3 linked regions of the Homo sapiens genome follow. The protein of the gene in region 1 interacts with the protein of each later gene in a biochemical or structural test. Each region holds a gene or a part of one and is shown in the gene's direction. Other genes may lie near its edges.

Region 1 (7,149 bases):
TCTGCCTCCCAGGTTCAAGTGATCCTCCTGTCTCAGCCTCCCAAGTAGCCGGGACTACCGGCACCCACCACCACGCCCAGCTAATTTTTGTATTTTTGATACAGACGGGATTTCGCCATGCTGGCCAGGCTTGTCTCGAACTCCTGGCCTCAAGTGATCCTCCCACCTCAGCCTCCCAAAGTGCTGGGATTACAGGCATGAGCCACCGCACCTGGCCTATACACTTCTTAAGTAAAGAAATAATACTTACTTAATTTTTTTCTGATTTCTTGCAATTTTTTAGATTTCTCTGCTATCCCTATGAATGGAATGAACAAACATGCCCTTGTTTTACATGTATGTGGAAGGTTTTGGATTTAAAGAGATGTTTTTCTTCACTATCTACAGGCATTGATTCTTGTCAACAATAAAATTAGCAAAGTTAGTCCTGGAGCATTTACACCTTTGGTGAAGTTGGAACGACTTTATCTGTCCAAGAATCAGCTGAAGGAATTGCCAGAAAAAATGCCCAAAACTCTTCAGGAGCTGCGTGCCCATGAGAATGAGATCACCAAAGTGCGAAAAGTTACTTTCAATGGACTGAACCAGATGATTGTCATAGGTACAGACATTTTTATAACTTTAAGACCAAAACTCAAGTTTTTATCTTAAGAGATTTCAACTGGGTTTTAAGTGCAGGAAGGTAAATTAGCTACAAGCTACATGCCTGGAGCCTATGTGATTTATAAGAACAGGGCCAAGAGAAATTGGGATTTTGAATCTGGACCTTACAGTGATGTTTTTATGTATGTCCTTGAGTATCTGAGAATATGGAGAAAACCCTAGGGCTGAAGTTACCCTACCACACACACAATATGCAAAGATGAGTTTAAATAGTGCTTAACTACAGATATTTTGAGATACCTTTCCGTTTTGGGGACCTGTTGTATTCTAAACACTCATAAATCATTTGCTTTAAAAATATGTTATGGCTGGGCGCGGTGGCTCATGCCTGTAATCCCAGCACTTTGGGAGGCCGAAGCAGGCGGATCACGAGGTCAGGAGATCGAGACCATCCTGGCTAACATGGTGAAACCCCATCTCTACTAAAAATACAAAAAATTAGCCGGGCGTGGTGGTGGGGGCCTGTAGTACCAGCTACTCGGGAGGCTGAGGCAGGAGAATGGCGTGAACCCGGGAGGCGGAGCTTGCAGTGAGCCGAGATGGCCCCACTGCACTCCAGCCTGGGTGACAGAGTGAGACTACGTCTCAAAAAAAAAAAAATTTCTCTAAACATATAGTAAAAATTGTAATTTTATTATTGGCTTATAAAATGCTAGATTGAAATTCTTTAACAAAATTTTAAAATACCTTAGGAAAATAATAAATAACGTAAGATGGGAATTGTAAACTTGCTTTAGTTGATTTCTGGGCAAACCTGTGTATGCATCTTAAATAATTTTATTGGTATTGCTTTCACTAATAGTCTTTTTCATAAGTCATTATTATTCATAAGTCATTGTCTGTTTGGCTTTTGTTTTAATAAGGGAAATTTTTATCCTATTTTGCTATTCTCCTGAGGAGCATGCTCTTTAACTTCACTTTTGTTTTTTAGTCAAGTTGATATTAATCCCTATTTCTTTATAGGTTGCTTGCTGAAACAGATACTACAGTGACTAGTAATATCCTAAAATTTCCTCTAAAAGCCTTGCACTTATTACATTTGTAGAACTGGGCACCAATCCGCTGAAGAGCTCAGGAATTGAAAATGGGGCTTTCCAGGGAATGAAGAAGCTCTCCTACATCCGCATTGCTGATACCAATATCACCAGCATTCCTCAAGGTGATAGAAGATTCTCCAAAACATTTTGAAAAATTTAAATTCAAAGGCTTTAATTAAAAAAAAAAAATCTTGTGGAAACTGGAATTGTCACCTAAGAGGCCAACCTTATTTCCAGCAAATTCTCTATTACTGCTAGTGTTTCATCCAGTGTTTATATTTCCAGCAAATTCTCTATTACTGCTAGTGTTATATCCAGTGATTCAGTCTGGATGACCACGGGGCCATCCAGGCTCACTGTAGAGATGGGTAGACTCCTGTTAATGTCTAGTTTAAGACACAACTTAATGCACAGTGATTTTATAATATTGTAAAATCACAAAGAAAAAGTACATTTATTTAAAAAATAGCATGCCTTGGTGTTTGTAAAAAAAAAAAAAAAGATATATGGGAGTACCTCTGAAATTGATCCAATTTTTATCTTGAGTCTGCAATAGCTTAGGGAATTTTTTTTTCCTTTTTAAGACACTCCAGTTATTAATATCTGAATGATAGTGGTAGTTGTGTGTTGTGAAGAGTGTAGATTTTGGAGTCAGTTTGCTTGAGCCCAAATTACCATAAAGTGGTTCAAAGACTTTGAAAAAGTTATTCATTTGTCCTCTATCTCTTTATCTGTCAAGTGGAAATAATACTGCTATCCACTTCATTGAGTTGTTTTAAAGTTAAATAAATAATTAGAGAAATATTTAGCATATAGATAAGTAGGGAATTAATATAACTCTCTATTATGCATTAAAAATGTTCTGAACAATCAGTATGTGTAGGCGATGTACCAAACACTTAAGACAGGGCAGGGAACAGGATATGCTACATGCCTTTAGGAGCTTACTCTCTAAAACCAAGCCAGACAAATACACAGCAATGACCACATAGCCACAAGGGTAAGTTCATTGTTCCAAGGGATTCCCAGGAGAGGCACAAAAGCCAGTCTTTGTGAATTACAAAAGGCATCAAACCACCAATAATAAATTCCTCTAACTTGCACATCGTCCCTACTCTGGGTTTTTCAGTCTCACAGAAGCCCTCTATATTATCTAGTTTTCCCCTCAGTCTGTCCCTTTCTCAACTTAGATGCCTTGTTCTTGAGTGCGTACAAAATGTAGACATTTGGCCACAGAAAACACCAGTTGTCCTTTATTGTTCTTTTACAGAAATTTCAACTCCTGAGAGTACATATTCCATAGGATGCTTTCTTACCACCCCTTGCCCTCCTCCTAGTCTTTTGAATACAGAGCATGCTTTTGACTTCCTTAGTAGCAACTACTGGCATAGATAGATACATAGATGATAAAGACTGATTTATAATTCATAAAGCACTTTCATGTTGAGTCTCCAATTTTTTGCATGTAACAAGTAATCTTTTGCTATCCCCAGTGCAGGAATGAAATATTTATATCTCAGATAGATATAAATTGGGGATTGATATAGATAGATAGATAGATAGATAGATAGATAGATAGATCTTATTAAAATTCTTGCTGAAATTTATTTCATGCAGCCAGATGACTTACATTTAGCACAATCTCAGACTTTGCTGTCCCTCTTAATGCATGCTCCAAAATATCCTTCACTGATACCTTTTATCATTTCATGATCTCTTTTCCTTTACTTTGCTATGTCTTCTATCTATCCCAGGTATTCTTTCCTCATCATTTATAGCTTGCTTTTATTTACTACCGCTTAATAGAAAAGTTAAGTAACTACAATTTATTAAGCATGTATTTAGTTCCGGGTATCATGCCAAATGCTTGTCATGGAGTCTTCTATATGATTCTTACAACGTCCCTATATAGTAGGGTTATAATTCCTGTTTCATAAAAGTGGAAAATGAGGCTTAAACAGGTAAAGAAAATTGTAATTAAGTTCTTAGAGCTAGGAAGCGGCAGAGATGGAATTGTGTGGTGCTGATGTCAGAACTCGTGTGTTTAACTATTTCACTCTGTTGGCATATTAAGTCCTCCTTTCTATTCATCGTTATGCTTATCTAATACATGATTCCACCTTGCTTAGGCTGGGATACCTATGCCTGAATATCAGCAACCTCCTGGTGATATTTTCTCCCATCACTCATGGAAATGGAAAGGCAGTAGAAAGTAGTGTAGAGACTATAAAAATCATACACTTAGATCAACCTGGGTGAGAGACCTAACTCAGTCATTTAGTTGTACTGTGACTTTAGGATAATTATTCTGCATTTCTATAACCTCAGGTTTGTTAGATGTTACATGGAGCTATTAATAACCCTGTCTACTAGGATTATTGTGAGGATTACTCTATAGAAGTAAGGCTTGTATTGTACACGCAAGTACTTGGCCCAATGTAAACCTCAATATATTTTATCTTAAAAAAGGAAAAGAAAAAAGAAAATTTAAAATAAATGAACAAACAAATAAATAAAATAACTGGAGTATGGGTTCTTTAACTCAATGCCACAGTTGCAGAAGCTAATGATGCACTTTACAAATTTGTCTATCTCAAACCTATTGCAAGGTTTTCTCCCATAGTCAAACTTCTTCTTAGCTATAACTTTACATTTGGGAAACTGACATCCCAAAAAGGGAGACACTTTGAAACTAAGTAAGGCCGATGGTTGTGATAGCAATTGGTGTACTGGAGGCACTGCATTAAAAAATATACATTTTGCATTACTTTGTAATTACTTTGTAACTTTGAGTCTTATTTATTTAACTGTGAAAAGGGATTAGTGACCAATAATTTATGTTTTGAGAGGCTTAAAGGATTTGAAGTAGGAAAAGTGCCAAGGTCAATGTTCGGTGCGTAACAGACATACAATAAATAGATGTTCCTTTTCCTAGCAGCTCTAACACAAAATATGCTACCATAGGAAACTAAGAATCATTTTCAAGTCAAATATGGACTAAACTATTTTATTAAATGGACAATATTGACAGAATTCAGTGTGATGTGATAAAAATTTTAGACAAAATGAAACCTGTGGTTTTTCAATTCTGTGTCTTTATAGACAAATAGCCAAGACTTTCTGCCAATCAGATGTTCTTTCTACACTTAACCAATTTGCTATTTTCTCTGTATCTATTGCTATTAAGTGGAACAATATGTTATTTTAAAAGCTGTATAAAATATAATACAGCCTCAGATGCTAGGAGGAAATGAAAATAAAATATTTAAACTTTTATATTTATAATACTCGATCTTTGGAAATCACAGCCATGCAAGTACTATCTAGAGGTTTAGTGGGTACTTTGGATGTAAAATTATTACCCCAGGTGCTCCACATATGGCAGATCACTTGATTATAGACCTCTCCACTCCTTCTGCATAAACATTCTGGATTTAATAGGCATAAGTAAATGTTAGCTGTTTCTACACAGACATTTTGCAGAGGTATTTGATGCTTTTATGGAAAAGTCAATTAAGGCTAAGACCAGCACAGTATATCAGTGTTAATTTTTAATGATGCTCATTAATGAAATAGACAATTAAGTTTGTACATGGGTTTAATTTATACGTAATCTCTTCATTATGGTTCGAATAGTGACTTTCCCACTTTATAATTACTATCTTTTATCAACGTCAGTTTTAGCCCATTAACAAAGGTGGAAGAGAATAATGAGACTCAGCGTTGACTTCAGTTCTTCTATTCCAAGAACAAAAATTGACTACATGATAGAAATCATCCAGGTTTTTGTTAAAGTCAACCTAAGAGAAAAATAGCAAGGGCTTCCACTACTTCCAAAAGCACACATTATTATAAAAGGGATGAAAAAAAAAGATAAAAGTAAAGCTGATTCTTTGAAACTGTGTGTCTTTTAGAAAATTGATGGCATATGTCTTCTTTAAGTTTGTCCACATTCTGTACTTATAATGTTTATCTGCTAATTTAACATCTTTAATTCCACATTCCAGGTCTTCCTCCTTCCCTTACGGAATTACATCTTGATGGCAACAAAATCAGCAGAGTTGATGCAGCTAGCCTGAAAGGACTGAATAATTTGGCTAAGTAATAATATTCTTTCATGACATTCTATCAGAACAATGGCTAGGTATATTAGTGCTTATATGATAAGAATTATAAACATGATGATTGATTTTTGAGTGTACTACATTTCACTGCTGTTGTTGTTTCTATAATCTCAAACTTCAGCATATCCAATTATTTCTTGAGAAGAAGCCAATGAAATAGTGCCCTTACTAAAACCACCAAGATCAGCTTCATATTTTATTAATACTATACTGTTTATAGATTAGTTATATTTTATACACAAAGTGTGTGATTAAATCAATATGTGCATTTAATATGTTCTAACTTATTTGCATCAAACAGAAAGTTAAGTAAATTATAACACAGTTGCTAGAATTTGAAAATCCATTAAAATGAAATCTACCAAGACAGAGAAATATTGAGCATCACACAAATTACTATTTTAATAATTATGAGATTCTCTAACCCCCTCTTCTCTGAAAAGTTTAAAATAAAATATCTCTGGGCATTTAATGTAGATCAACAAAAGAAAAGCTTTTGTTGTTGTTGTTTTTGCTGGCCCTTCTTAATGATTTTTTTTAAAATAAGTGATACTAGTACTTGTCCTGGTTTCAAACATAACTTCAATCTGGCAAACGTTTTCACTTGTCTTCAAGGAACACTATGTTCTTTTTGATCTGTACATATTGCTGACTGTCCCTACAGAGAAGCACACTATCATGCCAGATTTACTCATTCCTGTTGTTATATATAAATTTCATGGTGGATAAATAAATATAAAATATATCTTTGAATGTGTATATATATATATATGCATGTGTGTGTGTATAATCAACTCCTTTACTAGGTAAAATATTCTTTGATGGGAAAAGTGGTTTTTGATCCATGAGACCTCTGTCCCTCACAATGCCTAGCATAATATCATGCACATAAGTTTTCAAGAATATTTGTTTATTAAATATACAAATAAATGTTTGAATAAGTGAACAGTTTTTAAAAATAAACTATTAGGAATATTATGTTCCAATATTATGGTTGACCATAATTTGATGTTGGAACTTAGGATATTATAAGGAATAGGAGACTATGTCCAATCACGTTCTGTCAGATGAATCTCAAAGACAGTAACTTTGAGCCGAGACCTTAACAATAAATGGACTTTGTCCAGGCTCAGAGAGGTTGGAGAAAGCACTCCAAGAACTGGGAAGAGTAAGTGCAAAAACAAAAAATGTCCTTTCCTATAGACTTGATTAACTACACAATGCTTGTAAGAAAGGCATCCATGTGTGGTGTTTGCTTTCATTTCTGCTTTCTGTTGCAGGTTGGGATTGAGTTTCAACAGCATCTCTGCTGTTGACAATGGCTC
Region 2 (7,000 bases), on another chromosome or scaffold:
TGTGTAAGCTCTGAAACAGTGGAAGGCCTGATAAATTCTATTTCATTTCTGATGACCACCATATGTACAAGTTAAAAGATTGAAGTTTCTTTTCCAGGATTAATACCAGGGAGCAATTTAGCCACTAAAGCAAATAGAACTAAAAGGGAAGCTTTCTTAGGCCCCTATTTTGTTAATTTCCTCAAGATACTTGGAAAATAATATTTAAAAAAAAAATGAATATGGCACTCTTGTTTTTTATAGTTAATGAAAACAGCCAAATAGAAAAGCTAAGAGTTTTGGAAATTACTGGAAAAGTTTTAAGATCTGTTATTTCCATGGTTTCCCTAATTTATGATATTGGTGAATGCTGGAAACAGAAATGGAAGGCCACCCTGGACTGATGGGCCCCAGTTTTCCTTCTTTCCTGTGCTTTCCTAAAGCAAAAGATTCCTCAAAGAGTCTTCTACACCCCTGGGAGATACTTGGGTTTTGGCTTTCTTGCCTTCTCATTTCCCTAACAAAACCTCCTTCCTCGGTTTACAGAGGAAGTTCCAGCCCAGCAATACTTAGAAATTGATGAGGTGACGACAGACAGTTTTAGGGTGACCTGGCATCCCCTCTCAGCTGATGAAGGGCTACACAAATTGATGTGGATTCCAGTCTATGGGGGGAAGACTGAGGAGGTGAGTTTTCTGAAACAGACTGAAAATTAATCTGGAGCATTAGTGAATACCTACTGCTGCTGGAGTTGGTCTTCACTTTAAAATATATTAGGAATCCCAGAAGTAATTAGTATTTTACATGGCTTGGAGTTTTAGAAATGTCAAATCATAAGATTTTCCTAATATTATGATGTATTGTTGCCAGAGCTTTAGTTATATATTTATATATTTTCAGATTCTTTGACTTTAATAAATGACATTTAATACAACTTTAAAATGTCACTTTTGCAATATTAATAATTTATTTGCTGAGGGGATTGAAAGGAATAAAGTCTCTGGCTTGACCTTAAAATGGACTTCGACAGCCTTGGAGTTCTTTATGATTGGTTGTTTCTTGCTTATGCTCAGAATAACACTTTTTCTTTACTTTTTTTTCAAATAAGCATAGTTACTAAGCACCAAAATATATTTCAGGTTGTCCTGAAAGAAGAGCAGGACTCACATGTTATTGAAGGCCTGGAGCCCGGTACGGAGTATGAAGTTTCACTATTGGCCGTACTTGATGATGGAAGCGAGAGTGAGGTGGTGACTGCTGTCGGGACCACACGTAAGTCTTGGTCTGGCCACAGTGCGTTTTAGCTGCTCCCACAATCCCTCTTTACCCCATCAATTTCCTTCCCCATCTGCTTTATCTTTGGCTATGTAAGCTTCAATTTCTCTTTGTCCCCCAGAATTCTTCATATATCTTCACTTTCAATGAAACCAGTATGTGAAGCATCTTAGCTTCCTAGATAATGATCAACATGAAGGCAGGGACCATATCTGTGTTGCTCACCATTATATTTTCCAGGACTTAGCACAGTACTTGGCACATGTTAACTGTAGAGTAAACACCCATCAAATGGATGGATGGATAGATGAATGGATGTATGCAAGAATGGATAAAATAATTTACAAATGAATAGATTGCCAAACAAATAAACCTAGGGCCAACATGTCAAAGAGTTTCTGGAATTTTCCAAGTTGATATTGGTTCCAAGAGTCTTGTACAAAATTTACTTGCTGATTCATTCATCTCTTCATTTTTAAAATATGAGGTATTGACCACATATTAAATTGCCTTTGCCTGGGTTCCCTGGAACCAGATTCTAGACAGAAATTGCAGCCAGAAAGTTTATTGAAGAGTGCAGTTGGGAGATGCTTACGTAAAAAACTGAGGACAGCAGGAGGGGGCATGGGAAGAAGTTGAAACTGAACCCTCAGCTAATCTTATTATAATGGAGGTCTAGTGCTGGGATGACCCTTCTGAGTTGTCCCAAATTGAGACAAAGGGGCTGAGACTTCATACCCTTGCATCCCCAGTCGCTGGAGGTGAGCCATTCCCTGACAGAGGCCATGAACTCAGGCGAGACAGTTCCCAGAGCTGTGAACTGTTGGCAGGCAGTGTTCCAGCACCAAGTGGATTGGTGTGTTGACCCTAAAAAGAGGATCTGGGAAGAGCACCACATCTGTACTTCATTCTGCTATATGCCCACGGTGGCTGTAAGAAATAGAAGATGCATTGCTTGTCCAAGCACATTGCATTCCGTGGTGGTCCTGTTTGGCAGCCTTTTCACAACTTGGTCTACAGCACTGTCTAATTTCCCTTAATTACCATGGCTGTGCCCCTATTTCAAAGTAATTGGGTGGTTTCACAATTCTGTAGATGTAGTTCAAATGTTTATATGAAGCCTGGTATCTGTGATGAGAAACTTTAACATTCTTTGGGTTTCAGTTTTCTTATCTGTGGCACAGGTATGTCTGCCTTACTTACAATTCATTTCTTTCGTCTTCTAACCATTGTCATGTTTGTTGTGGGAGGCAAGTGAGATAATATAGGTGAAATGTTCTTTGAAAGCTACAACATGCTATAGAAAAATGGACAGTTGTTTTTGCAGCATTTTAAAGTAATATATTGCTTTTAGTTGACAGTTTTTGGACAGAACCAGCTACAACCATAGTGCCTACCACATCTGTGACTTCAGGTAAGGTCAAATAGTAGCCTGCTTAACCACTTTAAAAATTTTCTTTAAACAGATGTTATATTATCCTGGTTTTATTTATTATTAACTAGGAAAAGAGATGACCCTCCCTTCCTTTTCTGGCACACTGGTTCAAATTTCACGCCTCTCAGAGCCTCTCAACACCTTCCTTGCCACTAAATGCCCATGGATCTCCTAGTCAACTGATCTCACTGATACATCACTCTACCTCTTTCATCTTTGTCTGGATGCTCATGCACCTTACCTGGGATGTTAACGTAGCTGCCTCCCCAGGGGTCTTTGCCCTCCTCTTTTTTTTTTCTTTTTATTTTATTTTATTTTATTTTATTTATTATTATTATACTTTAAGTTTTAGGGTACATGTGCACAATTTGCAGGTTAGTTACATATGTATACATGTGCCATGCTGGTGCACTGCACACACTAACTCGTCATCTAGCATTAGGTATATCTCCCAATGCTATCCCTCCCCCCTCCCCCCACCCCACAACAGTCCCCAGAGTCTGATGTTCCCCTTCCTGTGTCCATGTGTTCTCATCGTTCAGTTCCCACCTATGAGTGAGAATATGTGGTGTTTGGTTTTTTGTCCTTGCGATAGTTTACTGAGAATGATGATTTCCAATTTCATCCATGTCCCTACAAAGGACATGAACTCATCATGTTTTATGGCTGCATAGTATTCCATGGTGTATATATGCCACATTTTCTTAATCCAGTCTATCATTGTTGGACATTTGGGTTGGTTCCAAGTCTTTGCTATCGTGAATAGTGCCACAATAAACATACATGTGCACGTGTCTTTATAGCAGCATGATTTATAGTCCTTTGGGTATATACCCAGTAATGGGATGGCTGGGTCAAATGGTATTGCTAGTTCTAGATCCCTGAGGAATCGCCACACTGTCTTCCACAATGATTGAACTAGTTTACAGTCCCACCAACAGTGTAAAAGTGTTCCTATTTCTCCACATCCTCTCCAGCACCTGTTGTTTCCTGACTTTTTAATGATTGCCATTCTAACTGGTGTGAGATGGTATCTCATTGTGGTTTTGATTTGCACTTCTGTTGCTCTCTGTTGAGAATTCCCCTTCTTTTCTCTTTTTTTCTTTTAGAGACAGGGTTTCATTCTGTCATCCAGGCTGGAGTGCAGCACCACGATCAAGGCTCACCACAGCCTTGACTTCCTGGGCTCATGTGATCCTCCAGCCTCAGCCCCCCACGTAGCTGGGACTACAGACATGTGTCATCGTGCCTGGCTAATCGTTTTGAATTTTAGTAGAGATGAGGTCTTTCCATATTACCCAGGCTGGTCTTTAACTCCTGAGCTCAAATGTTCCTTCATCCTTGGCCTCCCAAAGTTCTGGAATTGCAGGCATGAGCCACCATGCCTGGCCTTGTTGAGAATTATTCTTACCATGTTTTCCTTGCATTTCTGTGGGTAACTGACACTTGGCTGGTCTATTGTTTTTCCTACATTAGTTGTTTCCTCTCTCAGCTTAGCTTTCCCCTTCACTGTAATACACCTCCCAACTAGCTGTCAGAGTCAACTTGGTAAAACACAAGTTTGATAATATCATTTATTTACTTCTCTAAGACACTTCAATGGCTCTCCATTACCCATTTGTTGATTTGTTCATTCTTCATTTAATCCTTATCAAGCCTTCTTTGTGCTTTAAAGTCTTTTTCACAGCATCCAAGATCCTTCCTAGTTGGGTCCTGCTTCCCTTCCTGGCCTCAACCATATTTCCTATGCTTCCCCCGTTTTTCTCTTGCAATCCCGAACTCCTTTCCCTAAATGTGAGAAGTTCCCTCCCATTCCCATTGCCTGGTAGCCCCCCTGCAATGTTGCCAGGTAAATGTCAACCCCCTCCTCCTCTGTGACACTTTTACTATTTTTGTTGAGTTAATAACTATATAAAAACCAAAGCCCTAACAGTCTGACACACAGAAAAAGTTCAATGAATATTTTCTAAATGAATTAATAGATGAATGAAGAGAAAGGAGAATGAGAAAAGATGGACAAAGGGAAATGAAGTTAGGGTAGAAGAGAAAAGAAAAAAATGCAACAAATAAGGGAGCAGGCACCTTGAGAGATGAGCACGAATGTGCCAGGAAACACAGGTAAAGGAGTTTGGACAAGTACCAGAGAAAAGATCGTGTCTGTGTGGGCTGAATGGATAAAGGCAGCCTGAGCGCAGATTTGTGCTTTGAATGACAGGTGTTAAAAGAGAAATGGAGGTGAGGGCAGGTGATTGGGATGTGTGTTGGATGCTGGATTGCACACAGAGGTGGACAAAGTCTGGCCCACTGTGCCCACTTGTCCACAGAGCACTAGTGTGAGGTTCTCATGACCACTCTTTCCTTTGGGTTCCATGGGCTGTTTTTCTAGTCTCAGGGCTTCTTCCCAGTTCTCTTTACTAGTGCACATACAGAACTGACAGTTTTGAGGGCTCCATGGTCTCATCTTGTAAGCATCTCTTAATTCCACTTTTATTTGCTGCTAGTAGGTATCATGCCTCCCCATTAAGCACCATAGCTGAGCCCTTCTTGCCTCATATACAACTATATTACAGGGATACATTAAATGATGCTTGCTGTCACCCCACAGGTATTCTCTGTGGCTCATTTTGGAATATGATATGTTAAAAGTTTTTTAATCCTTGGTTGTGTTTATTCCAGTTTTCCAGACGGGAATCAGAAACCTAGTTGTAGGTGATGAAACTACTTCTAGCCTGCGGGTAAAATGGGACATTTCTGACAGCGATGTGCAGCAGTTTAGGGTGACCTACATGACAGCTCAAGGGGACCCTGAGGAAGAAGTCATAGGAACGGTCTGTATAAATTCAACTGACTAGAAACTCTGCAGATGTTACTAACACAGCTAATAAGACTGTCTTCGGAGATCAATGCAAACTTTACTGCTCTTTTCTCAGTGACTCTGCCATCTCCAGAAACTAATGTTCTCTGTTAATCTGACTCCACTACTGGCTTCTTAGTGACCTTTATAAATCCAAAACTTGCTCCATGTACAACTTGCTCCAAGTTAATAACCTCTGAACATTGTTTCAAATATTGCTTCTCTTCTGCTGCCTTGCACCTGTTCGAGCACCAAAGTTGGGTCATAAAAGGCCATATGCACTTGTGTCTGTATATATGTATGTATAGACATGTATAAAAGTTTAATATAGAAAATAATTTCTTCTGCCCTTGGAAATCTGATAAAAAAACTTTTAAGCAAAGGACACAGAAAAGGTCTTCTATATGGTATAGTGAAAATATTCTTAATAAAATACCATCCGTTAACCAATAGTTATATTTTTCATTGACATCAACTCGTATTGAGTAGATTTATAGTCATTTCTAATTATTCGTAACATGGATGTATCCCCTCAGGGATTTAGATTTTTATACATTGAGTTTTCTTTGAGTTGTTTTATCTATCTTTCCTTTTTCTAAATGATACACTCTTTTTTTCTAATTTATTTATCTTTTTTTAATATACTTAAGTTCTGGGATACATGTGCAGAACATGCAGGTTTTTTACATAGGTATACATGGACCATGGTAGTTTGCTGCACCCATCAACCCGTCATCTACATTAAGTATTTCTCCTAATGCTATCCCTCCCCTTGCCCCACAACCCCAACAGGACCCAGTGTGTAATGTTCCCCTCCCTGTGTCCATGTGTTCTCATTGTTCAACTCCCACTTATGAGTGAGAACATGTAGTGTTTGGTTGCCTGTTCCTGTGTTAGTTTGCAGAGAATGATGGTTTCCAGCTTCATCCATGTCCCTGCAAAGGACATGAACTCATCCTTTTTTATGGCTGCATAGTATTCCATGGTGTATATGTGCCACATTTTCTTTATCCAGTCTATCATTGATGGGCATTTGGGCTGGTTCCAAGTCTTTGCTATTGTGAGTAGTGCTGCAATAAACATGTGTGGATGTATTGTTATAGTAGAATGATTTATAATGCTTTGGGTATACACCCAGTAATGGGATTGCTGGGTCAAATGGTATTTCTAGTTCTAGGTCTTTGAGGAATCGCTACACTGCCTTCCACAATGGTTGAGCTAATTTACAGTCTCACCAACAGTGTAAAAGTGTTCCTATTTCTCCACATCCTCTCTAGCATCTGTTGTTTCCTGACTTTTTAATGATTGCCGTTCTAACTGGCATGAGATGATATCTCATTGTGGTTTTGATTTGAGTTTTTCTAATGACCAACGATGATGAGCTTTTTTTCATATGTTTGTTGGCTGCATAAATGTATTCTTTTGAGAAAGTGACTGTTAATATCCTTCTCCCACTT
Region 3 (4,235 bases), on another chromosome or scaffold:
TGGGGACAGTGCCAGGCTGAGCTCAGGGTTGAGGCCATGAGGTGCCACACCTGGTTGCTAGGTGGCGGCATGTTGTGTTGAGAAAGCCACTCTGGCTGTAGTGAGGGGGATTGGCTGGGCGTGGTGGCTCACGCCTGTAATCCCAGCACTTTGGGAGGCCTAGGTGGGTGGATCACTTGAGGTCAGGAGTTCGAGACCAGTCTGGTCAACATGGTGAAACCCTGTCTCTACTAAAAAAAATGCAAAAATTAGCCAAACGTGGTGGACGCCTGTAATCCCAGCTACTCGGGAGGCTGAGGCGGGAGAATCACTGGAGCCTGGGAAGCGGAGGTTGCAGTGAGCCAAGATCGCACCACTGCACTCCAGCCTGGGTGACAGAGCAAGACCCCATCTCAAAAAAATAATAATAAAATAAAATATAAAAAATTATATAGTGGGGGGGATGGAGAGGAGGTGATCCCAGACAGAGGTCTTGGGTGAGCCAGTGCAGGCAGAAAGTGATGAGGCTGGAGTCAGTTTCCACCCCTACCAACCCACCAACCTGAAATCTCTCCTGCAGGAGTGGCAGCAAGACCTGGCTTCGGATTGTCTCCCATTTTCCCAGGTATGCCAGGCTCCCTGCCCCTGGGCCCTGCCCTGGAGCTGCAGCCACCTCCTCCCTCCTCTCCTGTGCCATCTCCTGCTCAGAAGGGCTGAGCCAGCACCCAGGGGTGGACCCCACAGCCTCAGGTCACACGAGGCTGGACCCCGAGCTGAATGTAGAGCCTCCCCTCCTTCTTGCTGACCTCTTATAAACACAGGGAACATTTGCTTTTTAAAAACACAGTTCATGGCCAGGTGTGATGGCTCACACCTGTAATCCCAGCACTTTGGGAGGCTGAGGAGGGCAGATCACCTGAGGTCAGGAGTTCAAGACCAGCCTGGCCAACATGGCGAAACCCTGTCTCTATTAAAAATACTAAAATTAGCCGGGTGTGGTGGCTCACGCCTGTAATCCCAGCCCTTTGGGAGGCCAAGGCAGGTGGATCACGAGGTCAGGAGATGGAAACCATCCTGGCTGAAACGGTGAAACCCCGTCTCTACTAAAAATACTATAGTCTTCTTTTTTTTTTTGAGATGGAGTCTTGCTCTGTTGCCCAGGCTGGAGTGCAGTGGCACGATCTTGGCTCACTGCAACCTCTGCCTCCTAGGTTCAAGCGATTCTTCTGCCTCAGCCTCCCAAGTAGCTGGGACTACAGGCATACACCACTACGCCCAGCTAATTTTTGTATTTTTAGTAGAGACGGGGTTTCACCATATTGGCCAGGCTGGTCTCGAACTCCTGACCTCGTGATCCGCCCGCCTCGGCCTCCCAAAGTGCTGGGATTACAGGAGTGAGCCACCACGTCCGGCCGTCTCTACTAAAAATACAAAAAATTAGCCGGGCATGGTGGCGGGCACCTGTAGTCTCAGCTACTCGGGAGGCTCACGCAGGAGAATGGTGTGAACCCGGGAGGCGGAGCATGGTGTGAACCCGGGAGGCGGAGCTTGCAGTGAGCCGAGATTGCGCCACTGCACTCCAGCCTGGGCGGCACAGCAAGACTCCGTCTCAAAAAAAAAAAAAAAATTAGCCAGGTGTGGTGGTGCACGCCTGTAATCCCAGCTACTCTGGAGGCTGAGACAGGAGAATTGCTTGAACCCAGGAGGCGGAGGTTGCAGTGAGCTGAGACTACACCACTGCCCTCTAGCCTGGGTGATGACAGGGCAAGACGATTGCGTCTCAAAAAAAAAAAAAAAAAAAAAAAAAAACCTTCAGAGGCAGATGTCTGTTCCTGCCCCACTCTCTGCTCACTGCCACCAGGTGGCGGTAAGGAGCCATATCTGGCTCAAGCAGGGTTAGGAACTGCTCCGGGCCGCGCTACTAGACAATGGTGCCTTACCTAATACAGACTGATGCCTTGAAACAGGGTTCACCCATCAGACTATTCCCAGGAGGGGGTAGGAATCCTGGGTTTGAGTCCCAGCTCAGACACTATGTGGATAAGACCCTCTCTCCCTCTACTGGGCCTTGATTTACTTATCTGATGCCCTCTCAGATGTATGGGTCCACCCCACTCCCTGAGAGGGCCGTCTCCTGCAGACACTGACTCTCCCTTCATCCCATGTTCCTTGATGGAGCTGCTCTTAGCCTTTCCCCGAAAGGCTTCTTGGAGCAGTGGAGCCAGGAGCCAGTGCCAGGCCCCGTCCTTCCCCAGCCAGGCCCCATGACCTGCCCCCTTTTCTGCGAGCGTTGGTTTCATCCAAGTAATATCTTGGGGGCTTCTCCCGCCCCATCTGTCCAGTGGAAGTTGATGGCATGGATCAGGTCTGAGTTTGGCCTGGGGCCATGACTTGGCTTCTCTTGGCTTCTTGGAGCCTCCATTCGAGTGGGTCAGAGCAGGCGGGGATTAGAGCCGAAACTGAGAGGGGCCGGACTCACAGTGATGTGCACCTCCTCCCGTCCAGGTGGGGCCTGCCTGGGGAAAGCTTGTGGCCGGAAGAGAAAATGAGCTTCCTAGGACCCCTGACTCACGACCTCATCAACGTTGGTGCTACTGCTTGGTGGAGAATGTAAACCCTTTGTAACCCCATCCCATGCCCCTCCGACTCCCCACCCCAGGAGGGAACGGGCAGGCCGGGCGGCCTTGCAGATCCACAGGGCAAGGAAACAAGAGGGGAGCGGCCAAGTGCCCCGACCAGGAGGCCCCCTACTTCAGAGGCAAGGGCCATGTGGTCCTGGCCCCCCACCCCATCCCTTCCCACCTAGGAGCTCCCCCTCCACACAGCCTCCATCTCCAGGGGAACTTGGTGCTACACGCTGGTGCTCTTATCTTCCTGGGGGGAGGGAGGAGGGAAGGGTGGCCCCTCGGGGAACCCCCTACCTGGGGCTCCTCTAAAGATGGTGCAGACACTTCCTGGGCAGTCCCAGCTCCCCCTGCCCACCAGGACCCACCGTTGGCTGCCATCCAGTTGGTACCCAAGCACCTGAAGCCTCAAAGCTGGATTCGCTCTAGCATCCCTCCTCTCCTGGGTCCACTTGGCCGTCTCCTCCCCACCGATCGCTGTTCCCCACATCTGGGGCGCTTTTGGGTTGGAAAACCACCCCACACTGGGAATAGCCACCTTGCCCTTGTAGAATCCATCCGCCCATCCGTCCATTCATCCATCGGTCCGTCCATCCATGTCCCCAGTTGACCGCCCGGCACCACTAGCTGGCTGGGTGCACCCACCATCAACCTGGTTGACCTGTCATGGCCGCCTGTGCCCTGCCTCCACCCCCATCCTACACTCCCCCAGGGCGTGCGGGGCTGTGCAGACTGGGGTGCCAGGCATCTCCTCCCCACCCGGGGTGTCCCCACATGCAGTACTGTATACCCCCCATCCCTCCCTCGGTCCACTGAACTTCAGAGCAGTTCCCATTCCTGCCCCGCCCATCTTTTTGTGTCTCGCTGTGATAGATCAATAAATATTTTATTTTTTGTCCTGGATATTTGGGGATTATTTTTGATTGTTGATATTCTCTTTTGGTTTTATTGTTGTGGTTCATTGAAAAAAAAAGATAATTTTTTTTTCTGATCCGGGGAGCTGTATCCCCAGTAGAAAAAACATTTTAATCACTCTAATATAACTCTGGATGAAACACACCTTTTTTTTTAATAAGAAAAGAGAATTAACTGCTTCAGAAATGACTAATAAATGAAAAACCTTTAAAGGAAACTGTGTCTTAGCTTCCTTCGTATGATTTAATCTGCCTTCAACTCGCTGGCCTGGATGGGGATAAGGGCTCTGCTTCAGGGAACCTCCACCACCCACAGTGTATTTGAGAGGTTGCCCAACCAAAAGCCCCTGCTGCTGGCTTCTGGGGCATCGATCTTTCTCCAAGTTTGGCTTGTACTTTAACAATGAGGCCAGGAGTTTGAGACCCACCTGGACAACATAGCTGTCCAGTGGAGAATCACTTTGTACCATATAGCTACAAAAAAAAAAAAAATTACCCAAGATTGGTGGTGGTGCATGCCTGTGGTCCCAGCTACTCAGGAGGCTGAGGTGGGAGGATCGCTTGAGCCCAGGATTTCGAGGCTGCAGTGAGCTATGATTGCGCCACTGCACTCCAGCCTGGGTGAGACAGCAAGATCCTGTCTCGAGAGAGAGAGAGAGAGAAACAGAAAGAGACAGAGAGGAAAGATGGCTGACCTAAGAAAATGCAGAAGACAGTC

Evidence for each region. The genes of interacting proteins can lie anywhere in the genome.
Region 2: the proteins of DCN (region 1) and COL14A1 form a complex in vitro, tested with the Homo sapiens proteins (one study listed by BioGRID).
Region 3: the proteins of DCN (region 1) and ELN form a complex in vitro, tested with the Homo sapiens proteins (one study listed by BioGRID).

What each region holds. Positions count from the first base shown.
Region 1 is NC_000012.12:91,151,748-91,158,896, reverse strand, and holds part of DCN (decorin isoform a preproprotein), read left to right. Parts: intron 1-387; coding exon 388-601; intron 602-1,708; coding exon 1,709-1,822; intron 1,823-5,707; coding exon 5,708-5,801; intron 5,802-7,104; coding exon 7,105-7,149. UniProt on the Homo sapiens protein: May affect the rate of fibrils formation.
Region 2 is NC_000008.11:120,226,102-120,233,101, forward strand, and holds part of COL14A1 (collagen alpha-1(XIV) chain isoform 1 precursor), read left to right. Parts: intron 1-525; coding exon 526-665; intron 666-1,118; coding exon 1,119-1,251; intron 1,252-2,608; coding exon 2,609-2,668; intron 2,669-5,365; coding exon 5,366-5,517; intron 5,518-7,000. UniProt on the Homo sapiens protein: Plays an adhesive role by integrating collagen bundles. It is probably associated with the surface of interstitial collagen fibrils via COL1.
Region 3 is NC_000007.14:74,066,173-74,070,407, forward strand, and holds the end of ELN (elastin isoform a precursor), read left to right. Parts: intron 1-559; coding exon 560-604; intron 605-2,484; coding exon 2,485-2,528; 3' UTR 2,529-3,735; downstream 3,736-4,235. UniProt on the Homo sapiens protein: Major structural protein of tissues such as aorta and nuchal ligament, which must expand rapidly and recover completely.